Linked DNA regions of Homo sapiens. The protein of the gene in region 4 purifies or fractionates together with the protein of the main gene of each other region. This does not show direct contact. Each region holds a gene or a part of one and is shown on either strand. Other genes may lie near its edges.

What was found.
Region 1: the proteins of SLC67A1 (region 4) and TM9SF3 purify together in Homo sapiens (affinity purification with mass spectrometry; one large-scale study listed by BioGRID and IntAct). This does not show direct contact.
Region 2: the proteins of SLC67A1 (region 4) and ATL2 purify together in Homo sapiens (affinity purification with mass spectrometry; one large-scale study listed by BioGRID and IntAct). This does not show direct contact.
Region 3: the proteins of SLC67A1 (region 4) and ARFGEF3 purify together in Homo sapiens (affinity purification with mass spectrometry; one large-scale study listed by BioGRID and IntAct). This does not show direct contact.
Region 5: the proteins of SLC67A1 (region 4) and CACHD1 purify together in Homo sapiens (affinity purification with mass spectrometry; one large-scale study listed by BioGRID and IntAct). This does not show direct contact.
Region 6: the proteins of SLC67A1 (region 4) and C2CD2 purify together in Homo sapiens (affinity purification with mass spectrometry; one large-scale study listed by BioGRID and IntAct). This does not show direct contact.
Region 7: the proteins of SLC67A1 (region 4) and EXOC6 purify together in Homo sapiens (affinity purification with mass spectrometry; one large-scale study listed by BioGRID and IntAct). This does not show direct contact.

The regions. Positions count from the first base shown.
Region 1 is NC_000010.11:96,584,213-96,588,359, forward strand, and holds the start of TM9SF3 (transmembrane 9 superfamily member 3 precursor), read right to left. Parts: upstream 2,801-4,147; 5' UTR 2,624-2,800; coding exon 2,522-2,623; intron 2,497-2,521; exon of another isoform or gene 2,099-2,496; coding exon of another isoform or gene 1,943-2,098; intron 1-1,942.
Region 2 is NC_000002.12:38,307,774-38,311,273, reverse strand, and holds part of ATL2 (atlastin-2), read left to right. Parts: intron 1-826; coding exon 827-965; intron 966-1,767; coding exon 1,768-1,895; intron 1,896-3,500. UniProt on the Homo sapiens protein: Atlastin-2 (ATL2) is a membrane-anchored GTPase that mediates the GTP-dependent fusion of endoplasmic reticulum (ER) membranes, maintaining the continuous ER network. It facilitates the formation of three-way junctions where ER tubules intersect.
Region 3 is NC_000006.12:138,262,939-138,266,438, forward strand, and holds part of ARFGEF3 (brefeldin A-inhibited guanine nucleotide-exchange protein 3), read left to right. Parts: coding exon 1-673; intron 674-3,500. UniProt on the Homo sapiens protein: Participates in the regulation of systemic glucose homeostasis, where it negatively regulates insulin granule biogenesis in pancreatic islet beta cells. Also regulates glucagon granule production in pancreatic alpha cells.
Region 4 is NC_000011.10:2,919,278-2,922,511, reverse strand, and holds part of SLC67A1 (solute carrier family 67 member A1), read right to left. Parts: intron 3,206-3,234; coding exon 3,105-3,205; intron 2,796-3,104; coding exon of another isoform or gene 2,754-2,795; exon of another isoform or gene 722-2,753; intron 411-721; coding exon 309-410; intron 77-308; coding exon 1-76. UniProt on the Homo sapiens protein: May act as a transporter of organic cations based on a proton efflux antiport mechanism. May play a role in the transport of chloroquine and quinidine-related compounds in kidney. Plays a role in the regulation of lipid metabolism.
Region 5 is NC_000001.11:64,669,129-64,672,628, reverse strand, and holds part of CACHD1 (VWFA and cache domain-containing protein 1 isoform 1 precursor), read right to left. Parts: intron 1,066-3,500; coding exon 943-1,065; intron 1-942. UniProt on the Homo sapiens protein: May regulate voltage-dependent calcium channels.
Region 6 is NC_000021.9:41,884,612-41,888,018, forward strand, and holds the end of C2CD2 (C2 domain-containing protein 2), read right to left. Parts: 3' UTR 501-3,407; downstream 1-500.
Region 7 is NC_000010.11:92,953,020-92,956,519, reverse strand, and holds part of EXOC6 (exocyst complex component 6), read right to left. Parts: intron 1,891-3,500; coding exon 1,779-1,890; intron 941-1,778; coding exon 806-940; intron 1-805. UniProt on the Homo sapiens protein: Component of the exocyst complex involved in the docking of exocytic vesicles with fusion sites on the plasma membrane.

The DNA.
Region 1 (4,147 bases), on a different chromosome or scaffold from region 4:
CAGCAACTTCCCCACACCAATGTCTCCTCTTCCTTTAGTATTATTCTCTCTTTACTAGCTACTTCTGCTTCTTTGACAGAAAAAAATAAATAAAACTCACTTGACATTAGCCTTTTCGGTACTACTATCTGGCTAAGAGGAATAGGAATGCCTAGTTTTTGAGAAATATTTTCAAGAAATTTAGAAAAAGCAAAAGATTTTGGCTAACAGTGAAAAAATAATATAAATGACATTTGAATTTTATGCTTATTTTTAGATGCTATTCTTCCCATAACTGTTTTTGTTTTTGTTTTGCTTTTTACAATACATATTCGGCCAGGCGTGGTGGCTCATGCCTGTAATCCCAGCACTTTGTGGGGCCAAGGCAGGCAGATCACTTGAGGCCAGTCGTTTTGAGTTCAAGACCAGCCGGGCCAACATGGCGAAATCCCCTTTCTACTAAAAATACAAAAATTAGCTAAGTGTGGTGGCGCACACCTGTAATCCCAGCTACTTGGCTAAGGCACGAGAATCGCTTGAGCCCGCAAGGCTGAGGTTGCAGTGATGTGAGACAGCACCACTGCACTCCAGCCTGGGCAACAGAGTGGGACTCTGTCTCAAAAATAAATAAATAAATAATAGGTATTTAATAATGGGTAACCAAGTAAGAGCAGTTCAATATAGACATGAAGTAATATGGATTCTAAATTTTTTGTCTAGCAACCATCTCATATATACCATATTATCTTTCGTGGCAGTCAACAAAAACCTTTTATCAAATATCTTATATGCAATTACTAGAATAAAAAACTGAAATAGTCCTAGCAATAAAACTGCATTGAAATTACACTTTTAATTTGTAAATTATTCTAAAGCCTTTATATACACCCAATTTGTAAAATTTTAATGGTTTCCCTAATCACAGCAGTGTAAGTCACAAGATTACAAGATTAAAAAGTAGAATACAGTACACTTTTGAGCTTATATGCCTGTATCACGGAACTACACATTGAGAGTTCTGAGTTTCATATGGTAACTTTTCCTAAGTGTTTTTTTAATTGGAAATATATTAGTAATAATATCATTAAACAGAAGGATGGATGCCCACTGAAAATTTAAAAATACTCAAAGACCCAAATCTATACATGGTCCCTGTATACTATGTGAAACAATAGCAGTTCTTAAACTTTGAGACAGCTTATCTGATGAAAGAACACAAAAGGAAATCGTTTTAAGCTGTTTAACCTCCCAACAAAATTATCTTAGGTGAAACACCACAAGTACAGTACAAAAACATGTCACCAATTCGAGATTTGTGTCTCTAAAGAAATACATACCTACACAGGTAAGAAGTTTCTGGCTGTGACCGAAGGTAGAACAGTCAAAAGTTTAGAGCTTTTATTAGCTAAAATAAGATCCCAGCTAGCCAAGGATCCAGCGAAAAGTTTTGTTGATTACAAATAAAATCGGATCCATTAAATAGGTAAGGACGACTGCTTCATTTCCTCACTTACCAGAAATGACATAAGACTCCCTCAGATCGTTCTGATTTAGTACAAACACAGTCTCTCATAGAAACTCCTATCATTAATGGTAAAGGTATAAAAAACAATTACTCGTCAAGCAAACTCTCAATTTACCTGACCTTCCTGCCTTGCTCAAGTCTACCACTCTGAAAACCACAGTTACAGCCCTAAGTGAAAGCCATTTGAAGAGTCGTTCACATGCACGTTTTGATGTGAGAATACCAATTAAACAAACTGCCAATCACCTTTAGGCCAAATGCAAAAGGGACTGTTTCTGGCCCTGACCTGAAGACTGGGAAACGTCAAGACCCTTTACTGTCAGAAGCTGCCTTAGTTAGAGACTATCGGGATGGGGGTCTCACTTAGGGGCTGGAAGGTGAGGAGAAAGTTACAAGAAAGGCCTAGGAATTGAACGCGTGTAGGTTGGGTGCACTTACAAGTAAGTATAAACTGCTCTTCAATTCAAGTTTATTAATGCTGCCCCACCCCAGGGTTTTAATCCGGTCTGGGCAGAAGCGGGCGATAAAAGCCAAAGGAGACCATAAAGTGTAGGATATTTCCTGGTTAGTGGCTGCCGGGTAATCACGATGCATCCATCTTCCTCGGCGTCGCAGCCCTCAGTAGCCAGAAGGCAGTCTCCTTCCCTGGGGGGCAAAAGCCCCGAGCCCAGCCTGCCCGTTGCCCCGCTCCCGCGGTGGATGAACCTCAACCCTTCCCAGGCTCCTTCCTGGCCCCAGGGTCCCAGGAACCCCGAGACCCTGGGGTGCGGCGCCACTGAGGCCCAGACCGGGGGAAGGAGACCCTGTCACTCGGGAGCGGAGCCCTGTCCCGGGAGCGCACGGAAATGCCTCCTCCACGCTCCCAAGGTTCCTGCTCCGCCAGGCCCAACCGGAAGGAGTCCTCGGGCCGCAGTGGGGCACCACCGGGCCGCCGGGCACTCCAGGCTGCGTGGGGCCTGCCTCAGTGGGCAACTGGGGAGCTAGCCCGGGGCGGCCGCGCCGGCCGGGGCGCCTCACCGTGTGTTCGTGCTCGTCCGCCCGGGTCCGGGGCAGCAGCAGCAGCAGCAGCCACAGCGCGGCGGCCGCCGCCACGCCAAGAGCGCCAGGCAGCGGCCTCATCCTCCGCGCCCCTCCGGCCCGGAGCCGGCTCACCGACTCCTCCTCCCGCCGCCGCCTCCTCCGCCGCCGCCGCCTCCGCCGCGGCCGATTCGCATCCACGGGGCGCGGACAGACGCACGGGGCCCGGCCCAGCCGCTGCCTCCTCTGCCGCCGCCGTCGCCGTCACCGCCCGCTCCTGAGCCTCCCCCGCCCCCCGCGCCTCCTCAGCCTCTTCCTCTGACTCAGCCACGTCATCCGGCCACCCCGGCACGCGCCGGAAGTGCCTCGCGACGCGGGGCCGCCACCGCCGCCGGGCCGAGGGAGGGCCCGGCAACCGCCGCCTGCGCGCCGGCTGCCCCTCGGCTCCTGGGAGCCGCGGCGCTACGGGCCTGCCGAGCACTCGGGCGGGCGCCGAGCAGGCTGGGCCCCGGCGCAGTGGCCTAGCCTGGACCGCAAGGCCGAAGCCGCCTCCGGGCCGCGTCCCGGTGTTTCGGGTTGTGTAACCTTGGCCAAAATGCTTAAGCTTTTTTCCTGGCTGCCAAATGGGGCCGATCGTCTGACCTGCTGCCTCCGGAACTTGAGGGATCAGATCAAATAACCCTTTCCTGGCGCTCGTCTGCCGCTGTGAATGAATCACGGGCTCCTGTAATCACCGTTAGGAGAGATTGTTAAACTCGTACAGGGTTGGATGTTTTAAAGTTACTGAATATTTACTGGACCCCTACTGTTCAATCAAGACATGCTAAGTTAGCTTGCCATTCTTGTTCATTTATGTGTTTACTTAACTATTTCTGGGTCTCCTCTTCCCAGTCATAAATATCTCTTGGAGTGTAAGCTCCTCGGAGCAGAGATCCTGTTTCCGTATTTCCTGTACCTAGAACAGTGCCAGATCCGTAGTAGACACTGAAACAAAAAATCTTTAAAAAAAAAAAAATATACGAATGTGGCACCACCATTTACACAGGCCACTAAGCCAAAAATCTCGAACTTGTCAGATTGTCTCTTCTCAGCCATCAGCAGTCAACAAGTTCTAGCATTTGGTCTCTTAAAAGTGGTTCAAGAGTTTATTTTTCCTCTCCTTCCTCTGCCAGTACCAACCAGTCTTCCGTATCACTATGTATTGCAAGAGTCTCACAAGAAGATATCCATCACTGACTGATCTTCCTCCCGTTTAACATCCCCAACAGGTGCCAGGGTGATGTTTTTTTTATTCTAAAAAGAAACCAGATTATATCGCTCACTCCCTTGCTTAAAACAGTTCTTCAATGTTAGGTAAATAAATCATGGAGTCACCACGAGGGCGTTCATCTGCCAGGCACTATTCTGAACGATATTGGCTCATTAAATTCTCACAGAAACCCTATGCAGCAGGTACGGTGAAAATGTTCCTGTTACAGATGAGGTAACTGAAGCACAGAGAGCTTGAGTGGCTTGCTGAAACACCAGACCCACTCAGTCTGGCTCCATAATAGGTCTTTTTGCTGGTAATGATTTACCAACTATACAGCCACTTTAAAAAAAGGAAATAGGTAAGTACTGGCATGG
Region 2 (3,500 bases), on a different chromosome or scaffold from region 4:
GCATAAATCATAAATAATCATGTAGAGAGGGACCTGAAATTCTAACACATTTCTAAGGTCTTTGTACTGCACTGTAATTTTTTTTATCTTAGCTTTTACTTTGTTCAGGGGCTAAACTTTTTATTTGTAGGCAAATTTATACTTTTTTTTTTGTTTTGTTCTGTTTTGTTGCTGTTGTAAGTACTTTAAAGGTAAATTCTTAATTTATTTACTGGTGTATAAGTCACAGCCATAATTTGTTATTTGGTTATTAGATACTGTGATTAACTACCTTATTTGTAGTTTTTGCTGTTCCAGGCAGCTTACTTGGGAAAAACATCTTTTGTGGTTTAAGAAAATGTGGGGTTGGCTGGGTGCGGTGGCTCATGCCTGTAATCCCAGCACTTTGGGAGGCCGAGGCGGGTGGATTACCTGAGGTTGGAAGTTCAAGATCAGCCTGACCAACCCTGTCTCTACTAAAAATACAAAATTAGCCGGGCATGGTGGTGCACGCCTGTAATCCCAGCTACTCGGGAGGCTGAGGCAGGAGAATCACTTGAACCTGGGAGGCGGAGGTTGCGGTGAGCCGAGATTGCACCATTGCACTCCAGCCTGGGCAACAAGAGCGAAACTCTGTCTTTAAAAAAAAAAAAAAAAAAAAAAAAGTGGGGTCTTAACAAAGTGGTCAGAAATGGGCCTTCATAATTTTTTGTATTGTCAAAAAAGACTCCTTAGGAGTACCATCTGAGTTAAGTGTGCATAGTGTGCATGCGAGTCTGTGTGCATTTTCTTTAAAAAAATTTTCTTTCTTCTGTTTACAATTTCACCTGTCTCTCTCCGCCCTCAGGTAAAACAAAATCAACATGAAGAGCTTCAGAATGTAAGGAAGCACATACACAATTGTTTCTCAAATCTTGGTTGCTTCCTTTTGCCACATCCTGGTCTTAAAGTTGCAACTAATCCTAGTTTTGATGGGAGATTGAAAGGTGGGAATTCCCATTCTTGCTAAAATCTGAACTTATTTATTAGAGGTGGAAAGTTTTTTAAGAAAATACATGACGCCTTAAATGTCCTGTCTTATACTGGAGAATGTTTGGATGCATTGTTCATGTTGTGGTTGTAATGCTCTGTGTTGTTTCTCTAGCATTCCATTGATTTGTTTGCAGCTGTCTAGCATATTGATTAACCTATTTTATAATGTCTGTTGCTCAGCAGTGATGTCCTGAAAATTCTGAAGGCTGAGAGCATTTCTTTTCAATTGATTGCAGTCTGCTAAAAGGCTTTATCATTTTATTATATTGATGAAATCAGATATAAGTGTCTGTTTCAGGAGTGATAGTACAGTTTATGTATGTTGTAGGATTATTTTGAGTGTGTTGGCAAAACATTTGGGGATTGACAAAACTTTTACAGTATGGCTGGTAAAACATAATCTAGTAGTAAAATTTAATACAATTTTATGAATTGTTTGCCTCTTGAAAAGGACATTTTCGTTAATACTAAATGTGAAATTTGTCTTGGTAGTCCACAAATTTATTGATGTTTTATTTGTTATTTGAACTGGCAGTGTTACTAGGGGGTTGGGGAAAATGGGCTAGTAGAGTAAGGGGGATTATATTTTTTCCTATGAGATATGGCATGTTGGATGAGCTTTTTTTTAAAAAATGAATCCACTTCAGTAATAGATACTATGTATTCTTATTTCATAAAACAGAATTTTATGAAATCGTACCAGTGGGGACCTAATTTTTTTTGGACTAATATGTTGCTCAATTTTTTGTTTTCTAGATATTGATGAAGACTTTAAACGAGAGCTTCGAAATCTGGTTCCATTGCTGCTTGCCCCTGAAAATTTGGTAGAAAAAGAGATAAGTGGATCTAAAGTCACTTGTAGAGATCTTGTAGAATATTTTAAGGTAGGTGAGCTCTTAAACAGTTTTGTCTAAGATAGAAATGTAGTTGACTTAAAACTCATCTGTATGTATAAGAAATTTCTTGTCTTTATTTTAAAACAAAAAAGAGTAAGATTTGTGATTTATCTTTCTGCCTTGAATTAGATGTATCTGTATTTAAGGATATTTAAAAGATTATAGCAGATTTCTGTCTCCTAGACAGTGATTTAATTTATTTACAGAATTATCTTACTTTTTCTCCATCTCAGATATGGAGAGAACAAGCCATTCATCATACTCTAATACTACTCTGTCATTAGTGAATGATAATAGGAATGGAAAGCATAATTTTACATCCTAAGTTCTCACAAAAACACTCCCTCAGAGTTCTGAGGACTTGATAAGAACAGCTGAAAGTATTTATATTGGTTCAAGTAAAGTACTCTTAGGTTTTTTTTTTTTCCCTCTGTTCTTCTCTAGTCTTTATAGCTTGCCTGCCAGAACAAGACCGCTGTGGAAGGTTGTATTATTTGTAGTAGTTTTAACTAAGAGTGTATTTTGTTCACTTATTGGATACTTGATAGTTACTCTCATATTATCTTTGTTTAGTTATGAATGAATTTTTTAAAATTTATTTTTACTTTTAATTTTTAATTTTTGTGGGTACGTAGTATATATACTTATGGGGTACATGAGATATTTTTGATACAGGCATACAATGTCTAATAATCATATTAGAGTAAATAGGGTGTCCATCACCTCAAGCCTGTATCCCTTCCTTATGTTACAGACAATCCAATTATACTCTTTGTTATTTTAAAATGTATAGTAAGTTATTATTGACTGTAACTACATTGTTATGCTATCAAATACTAGATCTTATTCTAACTATATTTTTGTACCCATTAACCATCTCTGCCTCCCCTCCACCCTCTGACTACCTTTCCTAGACTCTAGTAACCATCTTTCTAGTACTCTCTATCGCATGAGTTCAGTTGTTTAAATTTTTAGCTCCCACAAATAAGTGAGAACATGTGAAGTTTGTTTTTTCTGTGTCTGGCTTATTTCACTTAACATAAAGTCCTCCAGTTCCACCATGTTGTTGGAAATGACAGGATCTCATTCTTTTATATGGATGAGTAGTACTTCATCGTGTATATGTACCACATTTCTTTATCCATTCGTATATTGATAGACACAGGTTGCTTCCAAATTGTAGCTGTAGTGACTAGTGCTGCAGTAAACATGAAAGTGCAGATGTATCTTCTATATACTGATTTTTTTCTTTTGGGTATATACCTAGCAGCAGCATTGCTGGATCATATGGTCGTTTTATTTTTAGTCTTTTGAGGAACCCCCAAACTGTTCTCCATAGTGGTTGTACTAATTTACCTTTCTGCCAACAGTGTACGAAGATTCCCTTTTCTCTACATCCTTGCCAACATTTGTTATTGCCTGTCTTTTGGATAAAAACAATTTTAAATGGAGAAAGATGATATCTTTCTGTAGTTTTGATTTGCATTTCTCTGATGATCAGTGATGTTTTCATATCCTGTATCCCATTTGTTTGTCTCCTTTTGAGAAATGTCTGTTCAGATCTTTTGCCCGTTTTTTGATCAGATCATTTGA
Region 3 (3,500 bases), on a different chromosome or scaffold from region 4:
CTGTCCTCAGAACACACGCCGTGGGAGTCAGGGAACGAGAGGAGCCTTGACATCAGCATCAGTGTCACCACAGACACAGGCCAGACCACTCTCGAGGGAGAGTTGGGTCAGACTACACCCGAGGACCATTCGGGAAACCACAAGAACAGTCTCAAGTCGCCAGCCATCCCAGAGGGTAAGGAGACGCTGAGCAAAGTATTGGAAACAGAGGCGGTAGACCAGCCAGATGTCGTGCAGAGAAGCCACACGGTCCCTTACCCTGACATAACTAACTTCCTGTCAGTAGACTGCAGGACAAGGTCCTATGGATCTAGGTATAGTGAGAGCAATTTTAGCGTTGATGACCAAGACCTTTCTAGGACAGAGTTTGATTCCTGTGATCAGTACTCTATGGCAGCAGAAAAGGACTCGGGCAGGTCCGACGTGTCAGACATTGGGTCGGACAACTGTTCACTAGCCGATGAAGAGCAGACACCCCGGGACTGCCTAGGCCACCGGTCCCTGCGAACTGCCGCCCTGTCTCTAAAACTGCTGAAGAACCAGGAGGCGGATCAGCACAGCGCCAGGCTGTTCATACAGTCCCTGGAAGGCCTCCTCCCTCGGCTCCTGTCTCTCTCCAATGTAGAGGAGGTGGACACCGCTCTGCAGAACTTTGCCTCTACTTTCTGCTCAGGTTTGTAAACAATTCTCTGCTGTATAGTCAACAAGATTATTCAGAGCAGTTTGCCTTAATGGGCAATTACTATCATGCTTATAGTTTGACGTGCTCAAAGCATATTAATGTATCTTTGGGTTTCCCCAGTTTAAAGAGGGCGAAGAAATCTAAGACCTATTAGTGGTGGTTTATTTGAATTCTACAGCAGTCGATGGCTGGAATATACTATGAGGCTGATAAATGTATAGGATGTAAAGTAAAGAATGAGAAGTAGCTGCATTCTAGAAAGGTGCTACTGATTGAAACAAGATGACAATCTGTAATTCTTAAAACATTGAATTCCCAGTATGCTTCTATGTCTTGGTGTCTAAAATTCATAGAGCAATGTACTTTTGGTGTATCAAAATGTAAACAATTTTGAATGCTGTCTTGGATCAGTTGCACGCCAAGTCCTCCCAATATATTCTGAATTCTAGTGAACATTCGAACAATGTGTGATAGTCTAGTATAGCTTGGTAACGTTGCATTCTCCCATCTCAGATCCTTCCATCTGTTGAATTGTGACTCAGACCGTAAACAGTGGTGCTGGGGGGAATAGTGGGCAAATCACATCAGAAAATAATGCTGGTATTATTGAAGGGCAGAAGAGAATCACTTAGAGTTTTGGTGGAGGAAGCAGATAAAGAATACAGGGAAGTAGTAGCATTTCACATAGTAAATAATTATTTTTAAGATAGTGTTCTTGAAAGATAATACAGAAAGAAATAAATTAATGGGTACATAAAATTTATGGTGGGAATAAATGTTGGTATGGTACCAGGGAGGTCATCTGTGCCTTTCCCTCAAGTACAAGGGTCTCTTGACCACAGAATACTGGGGCAAATGAATCTCCCTAAGCCTGTGCTCAGATCCAAAGGGCTGACCCTGGGAACTGACACAGAACTGCTAAAAAGCCATGATCACCACTTGCTCTTCTACCACTTAACCTTGAACTTGTGTTTGTCATTGTGCTTGGTGCATTTATCACAGTCATGTGTTAATGCATCCACCATCCCTTCTACCCTCCCCTCTCTAGACTCCCTGCTCTTTGAGGGCTGAGACCTTGTCTCACTTCCTTTTTATTTTCTAACAAAACTTCACACACATACATGAAAAAATTGTAGCCCAGTTACTGGAACTTGGTTAGAAGCTGACTGATGTGTAACTTAACAAGTATCTTTAAGAAGCTGACCAAATTGTCCTTTTTCAAGAGGACAAGAAAAAGACACTTAAATCTCTGTATATATAAGAAGGAACAAATTTTTTTTTCCTTTTTTTTTTTTTTTTCTGAGAGAAAGTCTCACTCTGTCACCCAGGCTGGAGTCCAGTGGTGCAATCTCGGCTCACTGCAAGCTCCGCCTCCCGGGTTCATGCCATTCTCCTGCCTCAGCCTCCCAAGTAGCTGGGACTACAGGCGCCCACCACCACACCGGGCTAATTTTTTGTATTTTTAGTAGAGACAGGGTTTCGCTGTGTTAGCCAGGATGGTCTCGATCTCCTGACCTTGTGATCCGCCCGCCTTGGCCTCCCAAAGTGCTGGGATTACAGGCATGAGCCACTGCGCCCGGCTGGAACATTTTTTAATAAGAGAATTATCCAAAGTTGTAGCAAGCACCAAAGGAGACACAGAATTTTTACTCCAGAAATTTTCACATGACCTAGAAAAGGATGTAAAGAGACATGATTTCTCAACTTTCCTAATTCTTATTTCCTAAGAATTTCATACCTTATTTCCTAATTTCACATCAATTTTTAAGGCTACCTAACATATTTTTTTCCTCAATATTTTTTCTTTTGGAGTTAAATATAACAAATTTTGGATTTTTTTATTTGTGTGTGTAACAAAATTCACGTTTTATTGGAAGACTAGGAAAATGTATACTCTTCCTAAAAAATTATTTTTCTCCCTAAGATCTTTTATATCACTGTCATTAAATTTGACATTCTCTTATTGAACATTCTAGGGGTGTGTTTTGTGCATGTTTGTGTCTGTCTGTCTGTCTTTTTGTCTCTCTCTCTCTCAGACACACCCACCCAAATCCTCCTTCAACCAACATTTATAGAGAAGCCGAATTGTGCTATATGCTAAGGTCCCAAGATATGTACAGCTTATTCTCAATAAATATTTATTGATTGTAAATTGATGAAGTTGTACTTCGGTCTCTCTCTCTTTTATTTTGTAACAGGGTCTGACTCTGTTGCCCAGGCTGAAGTGCAGTGGCTCAGCCTCCCAAGTAGCTGAGACTATACGCACCACCACACCCAGCAATTTTTTTTTTAATTTTATAGATACAGGGTATTGGCCAGGCATGATGGCTCACACCTGCCATCCCAGCACTTTAGGAGGCTGAGACGGGTGGATTGCTTGAGCTCAGGAGTTTGAGACCAGCCTAGGCAACATAGGGAGAACCTTTCTCTACAAAAAATACAAAAATTAGCCAAGCATGGTAGTGCACCTTTGTCCCAGCCACTTGGGAGGCTGAGGCGGGGGGATCACTTGGGCCTGGGAGGTTGAGGCTCCAGTTAGCCATGTTTCCACCACTGCCCTTCAGCCTGGGCAACCGAGCAAGACCCTGTCAAAGAAAGAGAAAGAGAGAAAGAGAAGAAACAAAAGAAAGAGAAAGAGAAGAAAGGAAAGGAAGGGAAGGGAAGGCAAGGGAGGGCAGGGCAGGGCAGGGCAAGGCAAGGCAGAGAGAAAGAAGGGAAGGCAGAAGGGAAGGGAAAACGGAAGGGAAAAGGGAAAGGAGAAGGGAAAGGGTCTCACTGTGTTGGAAAGAAGGAAATAAAGAAGAGATGAGGCCTCACT
Region 4 (3,234 bases):
CCACGTTGAGGGTGCAGAGGCTGAACACCAGGCCGGGCACCAGGAGGCAGAAGTGGAAGACGCTGGACATCCAGGCCTGGGACGGCAGGCGGGGGCCGAGCTGAGTGGGGGCCTCACGGGACCAGGCTCCTCTCTGGGGTCTTACCTGTCCCTCCCCACCCTGACTGCTGTCCCTGCTGAAGAGCTGGCCCCGGGTGGGTGTGGGGGGCTGGAGGAGTCCCCAAGGGCTTAAGCACAGATGGTACCGCCCAGGTGGCCTTGCCCAGTGAGAGGGTCAGGTGAGTGGGCCCAAAGCGGGGAGCCCTCACCATGGCCAGGCCCACCACGATGAAGACCAGCACGCTGGCCCGGAGCAGCACCTCCTCCGAGAAGTGGCTGCTCAGCTGCCCGATGACCAGGCCCTGGGTCACCTAGAGCCAGACAGAGAGGGTAGAAGTGGGTATGGGGGAGGCGAGGGAGGGGCGTCTGGACTGTGGCCAGCCCCCAAAGCTGGGGACCTCCAGACTGGCCTGTGGTGGCCAGGGCCCCTCTGCAGAGAAGGCCCCTCAGCATCTGCAAGCCCCGGGGTCTCTCCCTACTCCGCCAGCAGTGACTGCGTCAGGATGGGTCTGAGATCCCTGAGGAGTCGGGGCTCCTCTCCACAAGGGAGGAAGGAAAGGCCCACACCAGGGACACCGGGGATGGGCTCGGTGGGACAGGCTCGGCCGCAGGCTGCTCCCGGGGATGGGCTCGGTGGGACAGGCTCGGCCGCAGGCTGCTCCCGGGGATGGGCTCGGTGGGACAGGCTCGGCCGCAGGCTGCTCCCGGGGATGGGCTCGGTGGGACAGGCTCGGCCGCAGGCTGCTCCCGGGGATGGGCTCGGTGGGACAGGCTCGGCCGCAGGCTGCTCCCGGGGATGGGCTCGGTGGGACAGGCTCGGCCGCAGGCTGCTCCCGGGGATGGGCTCGGTGGGACAGGCTTGGCCGCAGGCTGCTCCCAGGCCAGGGCGAGGCTCTCTATCTGGTCATCTCAGCTCCTCCACTAAGCAGGGCGTGCTGGGCCAACGCGCCTGGGAGTGCAGGGGTGGCCCCGGCTGGAGGAGCCCCTGGGCTCAGTATCTGCCCACAGGGCAGGCCCAGCCTGCAGCACCTCTGCAGGGGACCAGTCACCCTCCCAAATTCCTGCCAGGCAGAACAGAAACTGCTTCCAACCGGAACCATAAATGGTTTAAAAATCTTACTTTCACACTTGCTTTATCTTAGGGTTTTTTGGGATTTTAACACCTTTTTTTTTTTTTTTTTTGAGATGGCGTCTCGCTCTGTCGCCCAGCGTGGACTGCAGTGGCGCGATCTCGGCTCACTGCAAGCTCCGCCTCCCGGGTTCACGCCATTCTCCTGCGTCAGCCTCCCGAGTAGCTGGGACTACAGGTGCCTGCCACCAGGCCCGGCTAATTTTTTTTTTTTTTTTTGTATTTTTGGTAGAGACGGGGTTTCACCATGTTCGCCAGGATGGTCTCAATCTCCTGACCTTGGGATCCGCCCGCCTCGGTCTCCCAAAGTGCTGGGATTACAGGCGTGAGCCACCGCGCCCGGCCTAACACGTTTCTTAAAGGAAGAGCTGGCAAGCTCACTTCGTGCAGTGCGTCTAAGAGGGGCTCACAGTGAGTGCCGTGAAGGACTTCAGATCCAGGACTCAGACACCAAGGTCAGAAGCCTATTTGTGTTGCGTCTCAGTTTGCCCATTAAGTTTAAAAAAGCTTGAACTTAGGAGCCCTGCAGGTTGTGACATGAACCTGGAGCTAACAAGCTTGTCCCTGACCGGACTTGGGGTCTGGGGGCTACTCTGCGGGCCCCCTCCTTCCCCTCCTCAGCCTCCTCTCCCGCTGCTCAACCTGTGTCGGGGTCCCCATGCCTCACCCTGCTCCTTCCCCGTCCCTGGGCAGTTCACCAGGCCCAGTTCCTGCGAGGGTGCCCCGACGGTGTTGGTCACCACCCCAGCTCTGTCTGTCTCAGGCAGGGTCCCCACTGCAGCCATGGCAGGCCCAAGTCCCCCACAACACAGGCCAATGACTGCTGTGTCCAGCCCAGCTGCAGGCTTCAGCCAGGGCCTGGCTAAGCGTCCTTCCTCGCAGTGAGCTGGGCGCAGCCTGTTCAGAACAGGCCCCATGGCAACAACCCCGGATTGTTACTATTATTGTTGCTGTTGTTTTTCTGTTTATCTCTTTTTACCCTGCCAGGGTGGCCCCTCCTGCCCCAAAAAGCAGAGGCCCTCTCTGCCCACGGTGGGGGTCCAGCCCCTCCCAGGAGCAGCTATTTTAGCACTAGTCTAGTCCTGGGCCCAGAGGCTGAAGAGCAGATGGCTTGGAGGTGCCAGGAATGCCACAGGCTTCCGGAGAGGCCGAGAGCCCCCACCCCCACCCTGGCGGGTCCCAGAATAGCCCCCCCGCCCCGCACTCTGGCTGTCAGGCAGCCATCCTGGGTGGTGGCAAATCATCACCTGTCCCCACCACCCAGGGTCTGGTCCAGAAGCCCAGAGGAGCTGGTGGTGGAGGTGTCTCGCCCCGGCCCGGGAGCTGAGCGGTTCTGGGGGGCTGGCAGACAGACACCTGCCGCATCGGAGCTGCCAGGGTTTCAGGGCATCCTTCCATGACAGTGTGGCCTCTGAGGGCTGGCGTCTTATCCTACCATGACAGCGTGGCCTCTGAGGGCTGGCGTCTTGCTCCTATGGGACCTCCAAAGGGGCCCACGCTGGTCTAACCACTTTGCCACGTTAGGTCATCTCATCTGCCAAGGACCCTGCAAGGCGGGCACTTTGGCCTCATGGGACAGATTTGGAGAGTTTGGGAGACTTGCTCTGGTCACACAGCTGGTGGGCAGGTGGGCTGCCACAGATCCCAGCCAGCTGCCCATCAGAGGCCGGAGTCCACTGTCCTCACAGCGTGCCCACCACTGCAGTTGGCTCTCCCTCCCTGGCCTGTATGCCTGGTTCCCTGTGGACCCTGACATGTGCCAGATGGGAGGCCAAGGGCTCCCCAGCCTCCGCCGGGGAGGAGCCTCTACTCTCAGAGGCCTGCCCCACTGGAGACCCCTGCCGTGCCCCCCAGCAGGCCCTGTGTGCCCACTCACCATCTGGAGGAGCCCGAAGAAGGACATGAGGTAGCCAGCTTGGGCGGCCTCCAGCTGGAAGAAGTCCATGGAGATGATGGAGAACATGACCATGAAGAGCCCTGAGCCGGGGCAGGGGAACAGGGGTGAG
Region 5 (3,500 bases), on a different chromosome or scaffold from region 4:
AAGTGATGATAGTACTGAACCTTACATATACAGGTTTTTCCCTATATATATCTACCTGTGATAGTTTAATTTATAAATTAGGCCCAGTAAGAGATTAACAACATTAACTAATAATAAAATAGAACAATTATAACAGTAATAAAAGTTATGTGAATGTGGTCTTTCTGTCTCTATAAAAATATCTTATTGTATTATGCTATGGGTAACTGAACCCTCACAAAGCGAGACCAAAGATAAGAGGGGGACTACTATATTTGATCTATATTTGATAGAAACAATAAATGAAGCTAGAACTGCTTTAATCAAGACTATATTTTGCTTTATTTTACTTTACATTAGTGATATCAGTTTGCCAGGAATTCTGCATTTCCCCATAAGGGCCAATGACACGAAGCATGAACCATGAGGTGGAACTAAGAAAGCTATTTTTAAAAGCAGCCTGCATTAAATCAAGGGTATGCCCTTGCTTTGATCAGACAAGTTCTTTTGAAATTCAGGAGGCAGAGACTTTTGGTTCCATGGTCTCTTTCTGGGGAAATGTAAAAGGAACAGTCTAAGCAGCTGAAAATGTCACAAAGACTTTGGTTTAATGACAAAGTTAACATCAAAAGTCCTACCCAAGAGTCCTCTCTGGTCTTTCTAGTACCAAAGATATGGGAAGCCTCTAATTACTGACTTCCAGGGAAACAAGAGCTTTTGGTGCATTCCATGCTACAGTTATTTTTCTTGTTGTGTGCTGAGTCTGTCTAAATCATAAACAGTATGCATCTCAGAAAAACGAAAGAAGAGAAAAAGAACAAAAACCTTCTTAATAGGACACCCAGGCCATAAATTAGATTTCTATTCCTGACCATAACTATGCGGTTCCCATTCAACTAGAGATACCTGACATCTATTTTTAAACTGCAGCTAGAAAGGAAATAGCATCCCCAAAGCACTTACCTTATTTTGTTGCCACCATCTTGGTTACAGACAGGTAATAGGTCCATCAGAACTTTGTAGAAGTATCTGAGTGTGAAGTCAATGCCCATCACAGCCACAGTGTGCCCAGAAGACAGCTGTGTACTTTAAGTGAAAAAGATCAATGAGAACAATAGGCATGGCTTATTTAAGGATAAAAGCTATGTTCAGTCACAGGGACATTGTTTGGTATTAGAAATACCTTCCCACTGTTCCTCCCTACTTTTCCCACCTACAAAAATGATCAACTAAGTGACTGATTTAACACAACATGGAAATTTTATGAGAGAAAAAAATTTAAGACTTAATGTAGGACTGTATAAATAAGAGTGGCCCAAAACCTGAGCAGCTGTGAAATATGACGTTCAGAGAGTGGCTCGACTGACAAAAATATGGGCACAGAGGCATCAGGTGGGAGGTTGGATGCATGACTACTACAGTTACTTCCAACAAACCTCTAGATAAAAAAAAAATCCCCCTTAGCAACACCCTTATTATTTACTTCATTTTTTAGATAAGAAAACTGAGATCTCACAAAGGTTAACTGAGTGGCTAAGGTCATACAAAACTTAGGAGGAACAATGTCTAGTCCAGTTTTTTTCCCACAACATTAAGGTTGACTCTACTCAGAGCACAGCTCATATTCTAGAACAAGACTCTCCTGGTCCATAGGCCAGTGCTTTCTCCATTCCACCCTGCTACTCTCAACAGCCAAGGAAGAGAAAATTGGGCAGTAAAACACGGTGCTAACTTGTTTGGCTCTGGAATCAGCAGATCTGAAGTCAAATCTTGGCCCTGTTGCTTTCTATATATGTGGCTTATGGAATGCTGTTTCACCTTTCTAAGTTTCAGTTTTCTCACCTGAAAATGGATTCAATAATAGTACCTACTTTATAAGGCTGTTATTGGGATTAAATGAGATGGTGTATTTACAGTGAACACCTAAAAAAATAGAAGCTAAGCTAAAGAAAACTAAACAGTGAAGTTGAGCCCTCAGGCATGAGTTGACAATAAACTTATTACTCTTTCAGAGAAAACGCACTTCAAGAAATTGCTAGGTGTGTCAGAAGTGTGGACTTCTCACTTGGAACCTTGGCTGTTTTTAATCTATGCTCATGGGTAACTGGGAGGGCATGTGCTACTTGACCAACGAACTCCCCATACTCTTGTGGCTGAGAATTTGCAGTTTACCCAACATAGGACTTTCTAAGAGCCTATTATTTAGCATCACCCACCTGCCTAATTTCTTTAATCACAAAAACCTTAATTATTTCTCATAGCAATCTTAAAAGGCATTATAATTTCCAGAAAACTAAAGCTTGGGGAAATTAGTTATTTGGCCAAGGTCACATAGTGAATAACTAGTAGAAGCAGAAATGTATTTATCATTTTTGTAAGAGATGGGGTCTTGCTATGTTGCCCAGGCTAGATTCAAGCTCCTGGGGGCTCAAGTGATCCTCCTGCCCCAGTCTCAAGTAGCTGGGACTACAGACACACAACAATGGGCTGGTGGAAGCAGGGCTTTAAACTTAGTGTCTTCAACTCCAAAGCATATACCATGAAGTTGTACTGCCTTCTTAGATCTGCAGAGCATTCAAGCGTTTCCAAGCAACTTTACACTATTTAACTATCTGTGAAAAAGCCATAAAGGAATCATAGTTCCCATTTTATAAATAGAAGATTAGGCTGAGAAGGGCAAAAACACATAAGATAGATTAGACCAGTACCCACACCTGGCTCTTTCTACAACCCTACAGCTACCTCGGTGAAAAATAGCACTTAGGTGTTTTGGTATAAGGTAATTTTATTTCTAAACTTCTCTTGTATAACTGCCATCTGCTTCAAAATGATAAACATGCTAAAGCAACAGCACGTATATTGCCTACATAAATCTAGGATTCATATTTTCACCTGCATTTCAGATGGGTACACTGTTACCATAGCAACTCATAAAGAATGATACTGGAAAAAAAAAAATCACACCAAACCTATATTTCTAAGTACAACAGACCAGGCTGTTTGCAATACTTCCGTGAGATTTTCACAGCCAAAGACACATCTAACCAGTCCTTTACTCAATGATTGTACTTCATCTCTAGCAGCACCACCCTTCTCCAAAGAATGCAAACCCAGATTCTCAGGGCACTAAAAATGTGTATGAAAGAATCACAAGAAAGCTTACTATGAGTAACTGATAAGTGAGTGTTGAATTAGAAAATGCCTCTAATTCTCAGCCAAACCACTGAAAACTGAGTTCATGGGACTGCTTCATGACAAGCTGAAGATTAGCTTAAGCTTTCTCTTCTGACCTGCTAAAATGTCAGAACTTTAAAACAAAAATAGCATGATAAAAATAACTGCCATTTATTTGGGACTCGACCTCTTAAGTACAGTACTAAGCACTTGACATGCATGCATCATCTCTAATTCTCATCCTATCAGTTCAATGCAGGTATTACAGCCTCTGTTTTACATATGAAGTCAGCGAGGTCACAAAACATTATTATAAAAGTGCTTAACATTTATTGAGCCCTTACCAG
Region 6 (3,407 bases), on a different chromosome or scaffold from region 4:
GGAGCAGAAAACCTGGAACCCAGCTGGGAAGCATCGGGCTCCCTCTAAGGGTCTACACGGTGTCTAGCGAGCGGGCGGGACAGCTGAGAGGAGGGGTGGGCAGTGTGGGGACAGGAGGCTGGGCCTGTCCAGTAGCTTTCTCCAGGACACCAGCTCTCCACGTGCTCTGCTGTCTGGGCACCGCAGGGGGAATGAAGACTGAGGGAGACCACGGGAACTGATGACTAGAAAGAAGGCACGATGCCTGCATGGGGCCCGCAGGACACGTCTGTGACCCGACTCGACCGCCTCCCTCCCAGAACCACCGTGAGCCCCAGGCAAGTGCCGACGCTGTTCCACCTGTGGCTGAGCCAGGTACCTGTCCCCTCTGCATGCACCCGGGCCACCCACCGGGGTGGGGAATGGACAGTGAAGTCCAAGGATGACCTGATGAAAGGGGCGCTCAGAGAAGACCCTGGGACTTCCAGGACAGAACAGGACTCGGGAAAAACAACTCAGTGTAGTGTTCTGTGTGCACATTTATTTCTTTCAAAGATTGTTTGTGTTCCAGCCACATCTTCTCCAAAGGAACCCACCCAAGCCCGTGTGCAGGCTTGCTGCAGGGCTGTCTTCGGCGTTTAAAGTGCTACTGAGGAATACAATCATTGTCACGTAAGTTCATCACCGCACTCCAGCGTCAGGCCAAACCTTTCCGTGGACCTGGAAAACCTGCCACTTTCTTCTCTTTTTACAATGCAGTTTCGACATAACATTGGTAGAGTAAACAACAAACCACAAGCCTAAATGATGAATGGTGCGCTGCTGCCCAGCTGCTAACTGAGAGAACGAGGCAGTGTATTGTGTTTCGAATGCAAACGGTCATGGACCCAAGTTAACCTGAGTTTGCTCTGCAGGATTCCGCGGGGGCCTTGCCCTGTGCAGGCTGCTTTGGTCTTCGTGTCTAGGCCGGTTTGGGGCAGTGGGGAGAGGGCCTGGCAGCAGGGTTTACGCCAGCCCCGAGGTCTGTTTTCCGTCAGACAGAGATACGTGTCCTGCCTTCCACCATCCACCAATTTGTACTCTGAAGTTTCCAGATCAAGAGCCGTGAGATTACTACCCAGGAAACACCTGCCTTCGGTGGCCAGCAGTGTAAATTAATCTTTCCCTCTCTGCTCAAAGCAACTTTGCAACTCTCGTCTATAGAGGTGGCCAGTAAAACCCAAGCAAAAATCTAAACGGGCACCAGGTGGCCACTGAGTGGCGACTGGTCGAGTAGCAGTTGGTCATAAGGGATCAGGGCTGGTTTTGAACTCAGACTTGAAACTTGACGAAAATAAAGTGCTCTGTCAAAACTCTCACAGCAGGTTTTCAGCTGGAACAAGGAGATGGCTACTTTTTGTTATTGCTACAATAACACACGCGTGTGTGCAAACACACATAACACACACACACACTTAAAGCTCCATTTCACTCCTCCACAAAGAACAGAGGCACCTCCTTAAACAAAGCAAACGGGGAAGGGTTGCAAGCTCATTAAAACCAACATGAGCACCCAGTTCCAGAGATACAGACACAATTAATCTTAGTGTTCATGAGGAATTGTTTTTAAAACACAACTGGGCAAAACTTTCATCCAGACAAAAGCCAAAAACAAAAGCCCTCAAGCCACAAAAGCTTGTAGAAGAGGTGAGGCGATAAAGGTGATTTACACATCAGTATTTTTAGCATTTGGTGGATAATCTTAATTTATCTTTAACCTTCACAACATTTACTTTGTCATAAATACCCTACACCATGAAAAAACAAACCTGTATAAAACAGCTTGGAAAACAAACATTCACAGTATCAATACAGCCCATTTCTCACGGTGCTACCCTGAAGCTAGCCGACGTGTTGCCTTTGCCTTTGCTTCATAAACTCCCTCCCATGTTGGTGTTTTCTGTAACTTCAGAAAAGGCCATTGGATGGAGACAACGTGTGCGTGTCTACAGGAAGCAGAGCCCTAGACCTTGGTATTCAACAGTAAGCAGCGCTCATGGGATTCATCTGGAAATGGAATAGTTAAAACCTTTTTTTTTTTTTGAGAGCAAGAAGGCTTAATATAAAATCCTGGGGCCGGCCTGGTGGCTCATGCCTATAATCCCAGCACGCTGGGAGGCCAAGGTGGGTGGATCACCTGAGGTCAGGAGTTCGAGACCAGCCTGACCAACATGGTGAGACTCCATTTCTACTAAATAGAATTAGCCAGGTGTGGTGGCGCGTGCCTGTAATCCCAGCTACTTGGGAGGCTGAGGCAGGAGAATCGCTTGAACCAGGAGGTGGAGGTTGCAGTAAGCTGCCATTGCACTCCAGCCTGGGCAACAGAGTGAAACTCCATCTCGAAAAAAAAATTTTTTAAATAAAAAAAAACTTCTGATATCCTTGCACTTGAATAGAGTGCACCTGAATTCCAAAATCAAATAAAAAAGAACAATTAAAAACTTCTCATCAGTGTCTGAAATTCTGACACATAATATCCTCTTGGAATTCTTAAATATGTCTCAGCCTCTTTTTACCACATGGCAAAGAGCAGTAAAACTTCAAGTAAAACATTAAAGTGAACATCTGTCCCATCTGTCCCAAAAGACTAACAGTGATGCCTGACTTTGGGGACAGAAACTTGGTAGTATTCACATGTTTTGAAACTCCAGGTGCTTTTTTTACAATGATTAAAACTGGAATATAATTTTTAAAAACAAAGCAGGTTGGAAAAGTCATTTTAAAGTCACTTGATAATTCCTGGAACACCTAAGAAGTTTGTAATGCGCATTTTAAAGTGAAATTCCTAATGTCGTTTTCTAATCTCTCTCTCTAAAAAAGAAGAAAAAAAAATCCTATAATTTTGGTTTTTATACAGGTTTTTACTAAAAAAGAAAAAAATCCTATAATTTTGGTTTTCATATAGGTTTTTACTAAAAAAGAAAAAATCCTATAATTTTGGTTTTTATATAGGTTTTTACTAAAAAAGAAAAAAATCCTATAATTTTGGTTTTGATACCGGTTTTTACTAAAAAAGAAAAAATCCTATAATTTTGGTTTTTATATAGGTTTTTACTCACCAGTGGCTCTATTACCCCCGAAATATTTAATGTTTAAGGATTAACAAGAGGCTACGGAAGGAAGCTTGCCCATTTCCGTCTCCATGACAGAAGCCAAGCTTTCGTAACAGCCTTTTACATGTCTTTGGAGAAAAGTGAATCATATTAAACTGTCAAGAACACTTCACCCCAATGATGACTGCTCTTTGACCAGCATGTCTACTGGAAGTGGCACATTCAGAAGTGAGATCTGTGAATGAACTGAAATAGAAAGGCAACTGATGAGGAAAGCGACTGGAATGATATTAGGGATATTCAAATGGTGTGCCAGGTTTGTGATGTTTTCCACCA
Region 7 (3,500 bases), on a different chromosome or scaffold from region 4:
TTTAAAACACAAGTACATTCATTTTTTACAATGCAAGTTACTACAATAAAATCTTGGGGGTGATTGATAATATAACAAAAGTAGTTAAAGAGAATTCTTTTTAATAGGAAACTTTTAGAAAGAGCTGTAAGGTTAAATTAGCAAGCCCATTTTACAGATAAGTGATCAGTACATGGTTTATCATTAGTTTAATAAAATATTCAATTCAAGGGGATTTATACACACTAGACTAAGCCAGTGTCTCATCTATGACTCCAAATAATAAAATACCTTATGAAATTGTTTAATCTTACATTCTACCTAAAACAACCATTAATTAATCCTCAGTATATTCTGTATATTATTCAAACAGAAATCTTTCCACCCGCAAAAGAGGTAGGACTTCAATGACATGTAATAATATTTATTTTTCTTCAGATCAGAACCAATCAAGGATGGAAAACAAATCTATCCTTTTTTAATTTGTCTTACATTTTAAATTTTCAAAAATAAACACTCATATAGAATTAATTTTTAAACTGTGAAATATTAATTCAGTTAGACCTAGTCAGCACTACTATAAATCATCAAAACATGAACAAAGCATAATACACTGTAGAAAATAAGTATACTTTTCTCCATGTTAATAAGATGTTTACAGTGCCAAAAAGAAACTGACATTTACTTGCTCATTGTTGACAATGAATACCTCTATTCTTAATTTTTAGGAATATAGTAGATCTTGCATATATAAGAACGGTCTTTAATTTCTTAACGTCTGCTTACAGTGACTGAAATGAAAACTTTTGGTCAAATTTTTACATACCTTGAAAGTAGAAAGTCCATAAAGTCTTGTAGTATGAACAGTTTCTTGGGAAATATTTGTAATGTTAGTTATAAAGTCCTCAAGATATTTACAAGCTTGCTCCAGGTGTGTTGTGTTTATGATGATTTGTACCAGCTAGAAAACACAAGATATATCTAGTAAAATACAGGTTACATGTATGTAAAATCACCTAATTTTTAAAAATGGGATTATTACTTCCAGCAACTGTACCATTTCTACATAATTGCAGCATTATAGGATACAACTATCTGATTTTAAAAGCCTGTTGCAAATACTGCGTATGAATTTATATATATATATATATACACACACACACACACACACCAAGAGTCTAAATACCAGTTATTTTAAAATAACTTTTCATAGTATGTTTCAAATCTTAAACATTTAGCAAGTAAAAAATTAGGATTGTGACTTTTCCTGTAGTCTGGCAATCAGAAATCTAAATAGATATTCTAACATCTTTATCTACTATTCCCCATATGAACCCTTTTCCCTCATTTTTTTATTTTTTCTTCCAGAGACAGGGTCTTGCTGTCACCCAGGCTGTGTAGTGCAGTGGTATGATTGTAACTCACTGCAGCCTCAACCTCCTGGGCTCAAGTCCAGAGTAGCTAGGAATATAGTTGCACACTACCACGCCTGGCTAATAGTCTTCATTTTTTGTAGAAACAGGGTCTCACTATATTGCCCAGGCTGGTCTCAAACTCCTGACCTCAAACAATCCTCCTGCCTTGGCCTCCCAAAGCTCTCGGATTAGAGGTATGAGCCACTGTGCCTGGGATCCTCACATTTCTGGAATTTACACTGGTGTTTTTATTTTGAAAACAAATCTGCTTATATTAATACATTTAAAACAGGAAGCTAGTTTTACAGAATGACGTTCAGCAATAATTTAAAATAATTGTTTCATACAATGAAACATTTCACTATATGTGTCTTTTTAACCTACCTCTGTCAAACCTATATGAGGTTTTCTAATAAGGTTCAGTAAACAGCTACTCAAAGTTCTGGTCAGCAGCAGATTTGTTGATTTTCTAAGCATATCGTCTATTTCTGTTGAGCTAAAAACAAAGATTGATATTATTAAACTTAATAAATAATGAATGTGGTTAGTTAACATCCTAAATAATTTAACACAGTTTACTAAAATAATTTTCCCCATCATTATTTTATATCTTTAAATAAACTACAAAGACCCATATTTATTAAATCACAAACTTCAATTTAACTTTGCAAAAGGGACATTTTCCATAAAGTAGAATATTCATATATGGCATAATTTAAATTTATCCAATTAACAACCACAGAAAAATCATAGAGGACTTGGTATAAGGAAACAAAATTATTCCTAAATTCCGACTCCATCATGGGATAGTAACTTTGTTGTTTTATTATTTTTATTATTGTTTTTGAGCCAGGGTCTCACTTTGTCACCCAGGCTGGAGTACAGTGGTGCAATTATAGCTCACTGTAGCCCCAAAGTCCTGGACCCAAGCAATTCTCACACTTCAACATTCTGAGTAGCTGGGACTACAGATGCATGCCACCATGCCCAGCTAGTTTCAAATATTTTATAGAAACAGGGTTGCACTATGTTGCCCAGGCTGGTCTCAAACTCCTGGACTCAAGTAATTCTCCCACCTTGGCCTCCCAAAGTGCTGGGATTACAGACGTCAGGCACCGCGCCCAGCCCCAAAAGACAGTCACTTTGAAAGAAACTTCATACACAACTATAGCTAAAAATTATTTTTAAAATACAAACTGATATGAGCTCTTTCTAGATATAATAAACAAATTTAATTTTTAATATAACTAAGTTATCCATTTTCATTGATTTTTTAAGTCTTCAAAGAAATAAATTACCTTAAACTAATTTTAATATGATGTTTCTTAACATCCTAAGTATTACTAAGCTAGCACTAAAAAACAAATTCTCTTCTCCTAACCATTCGGTCTTCAATTTAAGTAAATAATGATTTCTTGGATACAGCCTCATTATCACAACAGTTAAACTGTCTGTAGACCATGGATTATCCATCTCGGCACTATTGACATTTTAGGGTGGATAATTCTTTGTCGTGGAGACTGTCCTGCACATTTGGATGTTTGGCCTCTATCCACTAGTTTCAAGTAGCACCTCTCCCCTGAACTGTAACAACCAAAGATGTTTCTAGACATTGCCAAATTTGTGGGGAGGAGGTGGTGGCAGGAGAACCAAAATTATCCCCAGTTGAGAACTACTGCCTTAGATACAGGCTAACATTTTTGCATCCTTTTACTTTTTATTAAAATACTACTTTTAAAAATCTGTGGGCCAGGCGCAGTGGATTGTGCCTGTAATCTCAGCACTTTGGGAGGCTGAGGTGGGTGGATTGCTTGAGGCCAAGAGTTCAAAACCAGCCTGACCAACATGGCACAACCTCATCTCCACTAAAAATACAAAAATTGGCAAAGAGCAGTGGCGCGAACCTGTGGTTCCAGCTACTTGGGAGGCTGAGGTGGAAGGATCACTTGAGCCCAGGAGATCGAGGCTGCAGTGAGCCATAATTGTGCCACTTCATTCCAGCCTGGGCAACAGAGTGAGTTCCTGTCTCAAAACAAAATAAAAACAAAAGCAAAAACAAAAACAAACACAAAGAACTACCATTCAACCCAGCAGTCCCATTATTGG